2 separate regions of the Homo sapiens genome follow, and region 1 is linked to region 2. The links come from fine-mapping of genetic effects on gene expression. A gene starts in region 2. The other region holds a variant in brackets. All regions are shown on one strand. Distances are from middle to middle. Region 1 holds the start of SLX4 (SLX4 structure-specific endonuclease subunit). Region 2 holds the start of DNASE1 (deoxyribonuclease 1).

Region 1 (2,901 bases), 43 kb after region 2:
GTTTTAAAACGTTCTGGAATTAGCGACGATGGCTGCAAATCCTGTGAACGTACTGGAAACCACTGAATGTACACTTCTAGTGTGCATTTTATGATACTGTATCTTTTAAAAAACATATTGTCTGCCCTGCAAACTGATTCCTTTACACCTCTCCTGTGTTCATTATTTCAGTGACTGGAGGCACACTACTCTCAGATGTTAAGGCCAGAAACCGGCAAATCGTTAACAACTGCGTCTTGACTATGCTCCATATTTCTCCATTCTTTTCGCTCCACCTCCTAATTCGGGCCGCTCTCACTTTTCATCTAGATTATGTAATAGCCTCCTAATGGGTGTCCTTGCCTCATCTGTTCTCACTGTAATTAGGCCTTTAAAAACAAAATCTTACGCCGGGCGTGGTGGCTCACGCCTGTAATCTCAGCGCTTTGGGAGGCCGAGGCGGGAGGATCTCTTGCGGCCAGGGCTCGAGACCAGCCTGGGCAACATAGTGAGACTCCCCCCCCCGCCCCCACCGCCCGTCTCTACTTAAAAAAAAAAAAAAAAAAAGCCGTGAGCGGTGGCTCACGCCTGTAATCCCACCACTTTGGGAGGCCGAGGCGGGCGGATCACCTGAGGTCAGGAGTTGGAGACCAGCCTGGGCAACAGAGTGAAACCTAGTCTCTACTAAAAACACAAAAATTAGCTGGGCGTGGTGACTGGCGCCTGTAATCCCAGCTACTTGGGAAGGTGAGGCACAAGAACCGCTCGAACCCGGGAGACAGAGGTTGCAGTGAGCCGAGATCGCGCCACTGCACCCCAGCCTGGGCAACAAGAGCAAAACCCCGTCTCAAAAAACAAACAACAAAAAACCTTCAATGGCTCCCGACGACCCCAAGTTGAAGCTCAAACCCTTAATACGATGTGTAAAGTCCCTCAAATACCAAGCCATGGCAAACCTCTGCTACCTTTCCCCCAGGCCCTGGCTGGCTTCACCCTAGCCCTGCGGAAGAGCTCGGGCATCCCCTCCAGGCACCTGAAGCGCGGCAGAATCCCCTCTTCACGTAGCTAACCCTCCCCGACCTCCAGGCCTCGACTCTCACGCCACCCCACCTGAGAGGAAGCTTCTCGGGCCCCCAGGCCAGATTTGGTGCCTCTCCCGGTCCCCCTCACACCGTCCACTCTCCGCTCCACAGGCAGGTATGCCCAGAGGGGGCCGCCGTTGTATCCGCGAACATTTCCTGAGCCAGCTGGGGAGGAACCAGACTTTATCTCACAGCTGCCACAGTGCCTTAAACTCGCCCTAACTCTTTCTCAAAAACTAACAGACTCCACCT[G/A]AAGCAAGCGCCGCTTCCGCCTCGCCCCGCCTCCTGCCGACCGGAAGCGCTGGCCGCCGCGGGCCCGCGCCCGGCGCCGCAGAGGAAGACCGGAAGCGAGGCTGCCGCACCACCGCGCGCGCCCGCTCTGCGCCTGCGCGCAGGCAATGCTCCGCGGGGGCGCGGGCGGCGCATGCGCAGGCGCGCGAGTCTCCGTTAAGAAGGTGCCGCGGCGGCGCCGGAGGTAGGAGGAGCCGGGCTGTGGGGCTGGGAGTCGGCACCCGGGAGGCGGAGGTCCTGTCATTTCGGGCCGTTCTCTCTTTCCTAAGGGAGAAGAGCCTTTCTCGCCCGTCTCCCTCGCTGGCTCCGTGGCCTCGGCAGGCCCGCAGCCCCGACGGAGAGGCAGGAGCCGCACTCGGGTGGAGAGGGGCCGGGGCCCGCCTGGAGGGAGGAGGGTGGCGGATCCGGATCCCCACGGTGGTCTCCGTCCGGGCCAGTCCGGGGATCGGGGTTCTCCGTCTGACTTTAGAGCCGTTAGAGTCTTTGGCAGCCCTTTTCCCAGACGGGGAACCCCTCAGCCCCTTTCCGTAGGTCGCCGGGTTGGGGGAAGCGGGAGGGTCCGCCCCTTACCGATCCATTCATTCATCCCTCGCCTGCTGTGAGCCGTGGGCTGCGGTAGGTACGAAGCAAGGAGGCACAAGTCCCCTTCCCTCTGGAAACCTGCAGGCTTGCAGGATCCGTTATGTCATTCAGTAAATCTTGACTGGGCACCTATAGGAGGAGATAGACTGTTGTGAGGTTCATATCAACAGAGATGCGGAGATCAACACAGTTGTGGAGGTGGAATTTGTTCCAGCCGCTCCCCGCATCCAACAGGATAAAATTCACTTTGCCTAGCCTGACCTTCCAGGCCCTTGTGAGCCAATCCTTTCCTCTCCCCGCAGCGTTTTCTCCTACACCTTTCTCTCTACTCCCATTATACCGAACTCTTTGCAATTCATGAATTCAACAAGTAGTTGTGGAGCACTTATTTCAAGTCAGGCACCAGATCAGCCAAAGAGGTTGCAAAGTAATAGATGGATCTCTACCCTCCTGAAGTGTTGAGCTTAATGGGGGACAGATAATAAGCCGATGAATAAAAACACAAGAGCGGATAGTTTCGAACCACACTTCCTGGGTTTGATCCCAGCCCTGCCACTGTGAAAGCTGTTCCTGAACTGGCTTTAGGCCAGTTCCTCATTCTGCTTGCGCGTGTTTCCTTGCCGTAAAGACAGGATGACAAGAGATTCCACCATATAGGCTTCTTGTAAGGATTAAACGAGTTTGACTTGGAAAGCAATTGGAACAGTGCTTGGCACACAGTAAGCATTCGATAGATATTACCTGTTTCATATGATGATAACCTATGACAGATGCCATTGTGAAAACAGTGGGCGATGATAGGGATTAACGGGGATGGAGACGGTCCATAAAGGATTAGAGGACACTTCTCTAAGGGGAAGACACAGAAGAGAATGCGCCAGCCATACAAAGTAGATTCTAGGTAGGAGTATTTTCAGCTCTGGAAAACAAAATGATTAATTAGATTCCTTGGACAGTGGAGATTGCA
Region 2 (2,901 bases):
ACTACTTCCCTGCTCTGTTGGGGCCCTCCCAGGTGAGGGAGGGGCTTCCTGGCTTTCTAGACCACCCACCTGTACACGAACAGGTAGCGCTCCTTATAGCTGTTCCGTCCCAGTGGCTCACTGACCACGTAGTGATAGGTGTCTGGTGCATCCCTGGATTGAAGAAACAAAAGGTCCCAGTGGCGGGGGCCATAGGGGACCCCTCTGGCTGCCGATAGCGAGGCTGTGCCCAGGTCCCCACCCTTGGGGCCCAAGTGAAGTGAGGCTGTGCCGTGGACGAGATGTCACCTTCCTATGACCCTGCCACTGTCACCCACTGATTGAGGTTGTCCAGCAGCTTCCCCACGGCAGTCAGGTGGCTGTCTCTGACCTCCTGGACCAGGGCGATGTCATAGCGGCTCAGGATCTGGGGGCAGGGCCACAGTGGTGCTGAGCAGGGCTGGTGCCACCCAGGGACCCTACAGCGCCACAAAGGGAGCCACAGCTGATGCTCGTGGCATTGCTCGGTTTAACCGCAGCCTCATGTTTCTGCCTGGGCTCCTGCTGCCAGCCAGGGACAGCACAGCAGGGATGAGGACCTTGGTCCACAGCCAAGAGCCTGTTCCACCGTGCTGGGAGCAGTGGTGCTCAGTACCCCACACCCGACACCCTGTGGCTCCATAGGGCTGGCCCTGCCCACCAGCCCTAGACTCCAGAGCTCCTCTGCTTTTGGGGGGAGGCTGCCCTGGCCTCACCTGCACAATGTAGCTGACGAGGGTGGCATTGGACATCTTGGTCTCCCCAAATGTCTGGATGTTGAAGGCTGCGATCTTCAGGGACACGGCCCCCTGCAGTAGGGCCGCCAGTGCCAGCAGCGCCCCCAGCAGCTTCATGCCCCTCATCCTGGGAGAGCACAGGGCACAGAGACATAACAGAAGTGAGACGTCATCCCTGCCACAGCACTCCAGCCTTCTGGAGCCCAGCTGGCAGGGGCTGGTGGAGCTCAAGGTCAGGGGGACGCAGGCGGGGGAAACCCTTTCCTACAACGTCCAGAAAGCCAAACAGCTGGCACCACGTAGAGGACCCCGAGTCACTCCTCCATCCACCAGAAAACCCGCCCGGGAGGGACGCTGGAGCCTCCGCCTCACTCGCTGCTGGAGGATGAGACTCTAAGCCTCCCTCCCTGCTCCAAACCGGCCAGTCACCCAGAGGCACTCCACCTGGTGCTCACCTGAGATGATGGTGATGTCCTCAGAGATGACGAGAATGCTGTCAAGAATCTGGAATATCCTTTGATGACAATTTTCTCCTTTTGCTGCTTAAAGAAAAAAAAGTAGTCTATGAAGAAAGGTCTCTGAAGAAGCACTTCAAGGCCCTGGCAGTGCTGCTGGGCTCCGGATCCTGCACAGGCAGTGCGTGTCTGGGAGTTTTAAAAGTTCAGGCAGCTGTGACCTTCCCTGGGGCAAATGTGAGCCGTCACCTGAGAGTGCAGAAAACAATGGCTCTGTGTGGCTTTCCGCATAGGTGGGTTGCTAGCACGTGTTTCTTTCTGTAAGCACAGGTTTCTTGCTGCTGTAAAAACTGCACCTGATAATCACGTTTGCACTTAGTTTTAAAATGTCTGATAACAAGGCCAAAGGTTCCTATCCCGTGTCCCTTGCACGTGTGGTGGCCCCCATCTTCCAGGATAGGGCAGGGATGGGCCAGGTATGTGCGGGAGGGTGGGGCTGGGCTCCAGTCTCCCTGTCTCTTGTCTGGGGGCCCCAAGGTCACTTTGGACAAAGAGGCCAAAGCCACATCCAAAGTTGCAAATGGAGCCCCCTGGTGGCTGACAGCCATGACTGCTCTGTGGCCCAGGACACGCCTGCCTTCCTGATTCATCGCCATCAGGTGCAGGCAACTCTGCAGGAGGCTGGGGAGCTCGGAACAAGCAGTGGTGGGGGCCTGCAGCACCAGCGCCGTGGGGCCAGGACAGGTGGGGCCTGCAAAGCCCACCCCAATTGCCAGCCAAGCAGTGGGGAGCCTTCTTGAGGTAGACAATAGGCTGTGTGTTTAGGCCCAGGGGATCCCGAGTGACCAGGTCACAAGGGCAGGGCAGCAGCTAAAGGCCAGGCCTCAGGTCCAGTAATTTCTTGGTTCTTTTGTTTTGGGTTTTTATTGTTTTTGAGACAGGGTCTCACACTGTGTTGCCAAGGCTGGAGTGCAGTGGCACAATCATGGCTCATTATAGCCTCAACCGCCAGGGCTCAGATAATCCTCCCTCCTCAGCCTCCTGAGTAGCTAAGACTATGGGTACGGCACCATGCCTGGCTAATTTTTAAATTTTTTTGGTAGAGATGGGGTCTTGCTCTTTTGTCCAGACTGGTCTTGAACTCCTGGCTTCAGGCAATCCTCCGGCGTAGCCAGGACCACAGGTGCATGCTACCATGCTCAGTTTTTTTTTTTTTTTTTTTTTTTTTTTTTTTTTTTGAGGCGGAATCTTGCTCTGCTGCCCAGCCTGGAGTGCAGTAATACTATCTCGGCTCACTGCAACCTCTGCTTCCTGGGTTCAAGCAATTCTTCTGCCTCAGCCTCCCGAGTAGCTGGGATTACAGGCACGCACCACCACACCCGGCTAATTTTTGTATTTTTAGTAGAGACAGGGTTTCACCATGTTGGTCACACTGGTCTCAAACTCGTGACCTTGTGATCCGCCTGCCTCGGCCTCCCAAAGTGCTGGGATTACAGGCGTGAGCCATCGCACCCAGCCTATTTTTTAAGTTTCTCACAGACACAAGGTCTCCAAGTCCTGAGCCCAAGCAATCTTCCCGCAAATGCTGGGATTACAAGTGTGAGCCACCGCACCCCGCCACTCATTTCTTGGAATCTTTGACTTTCCATTCGTATTCATTTCCTGAGACTGGTGAAACTACCACAAGTTTG

Evidence for each region. PIP is the estimated chance that this variant, and not a neighbour inherited with it, causes the effect.
Region 1: its variant is fine-mapped to the expression of DNASE1 in whole blood (TOPMed, PIP 0.91).

The regions. Positions count from the first base shown.
Region 1 is chr16:3,610,195-3,613,095 of GRCh38, reverse strand. It overlaps SLX4 (SLX4 structure-specific endonuclease subunit), which reads left to right and starts at 1,490. Exons shown (of 15, transcript NM_032444.4): 1 at 1,490-1,536. It also overlaps a transcript of DNASE1 not described here. RefSeq lists an enhancer at 1,173-1,242 and a silencer at 1,283-1,632. The variant G/A (reference allele first, on the strand shown) is at 1,314.
Region 2 is chr16:3,653,354-3,656,254 of GRCh38, reverse strand. It overlaps DNASE1 (deoxyribonuclease 1), which reads right to left and starts at 1,564. Exons shown (of 9, transcript NM_005223.4): 1 at 1,211-1,564; 2 at 735-882; 3 at 318-406; 4 at 70-153. The coding sequence starts at 881. It overlaps LOC124903631 (a long non-coding RNA gene), which reads left to right. Exons shown (of 2, transcript XR_007064954.1): 2 at 1-2,901. RefSeq lists enhancers at 332-859, 860-1,387.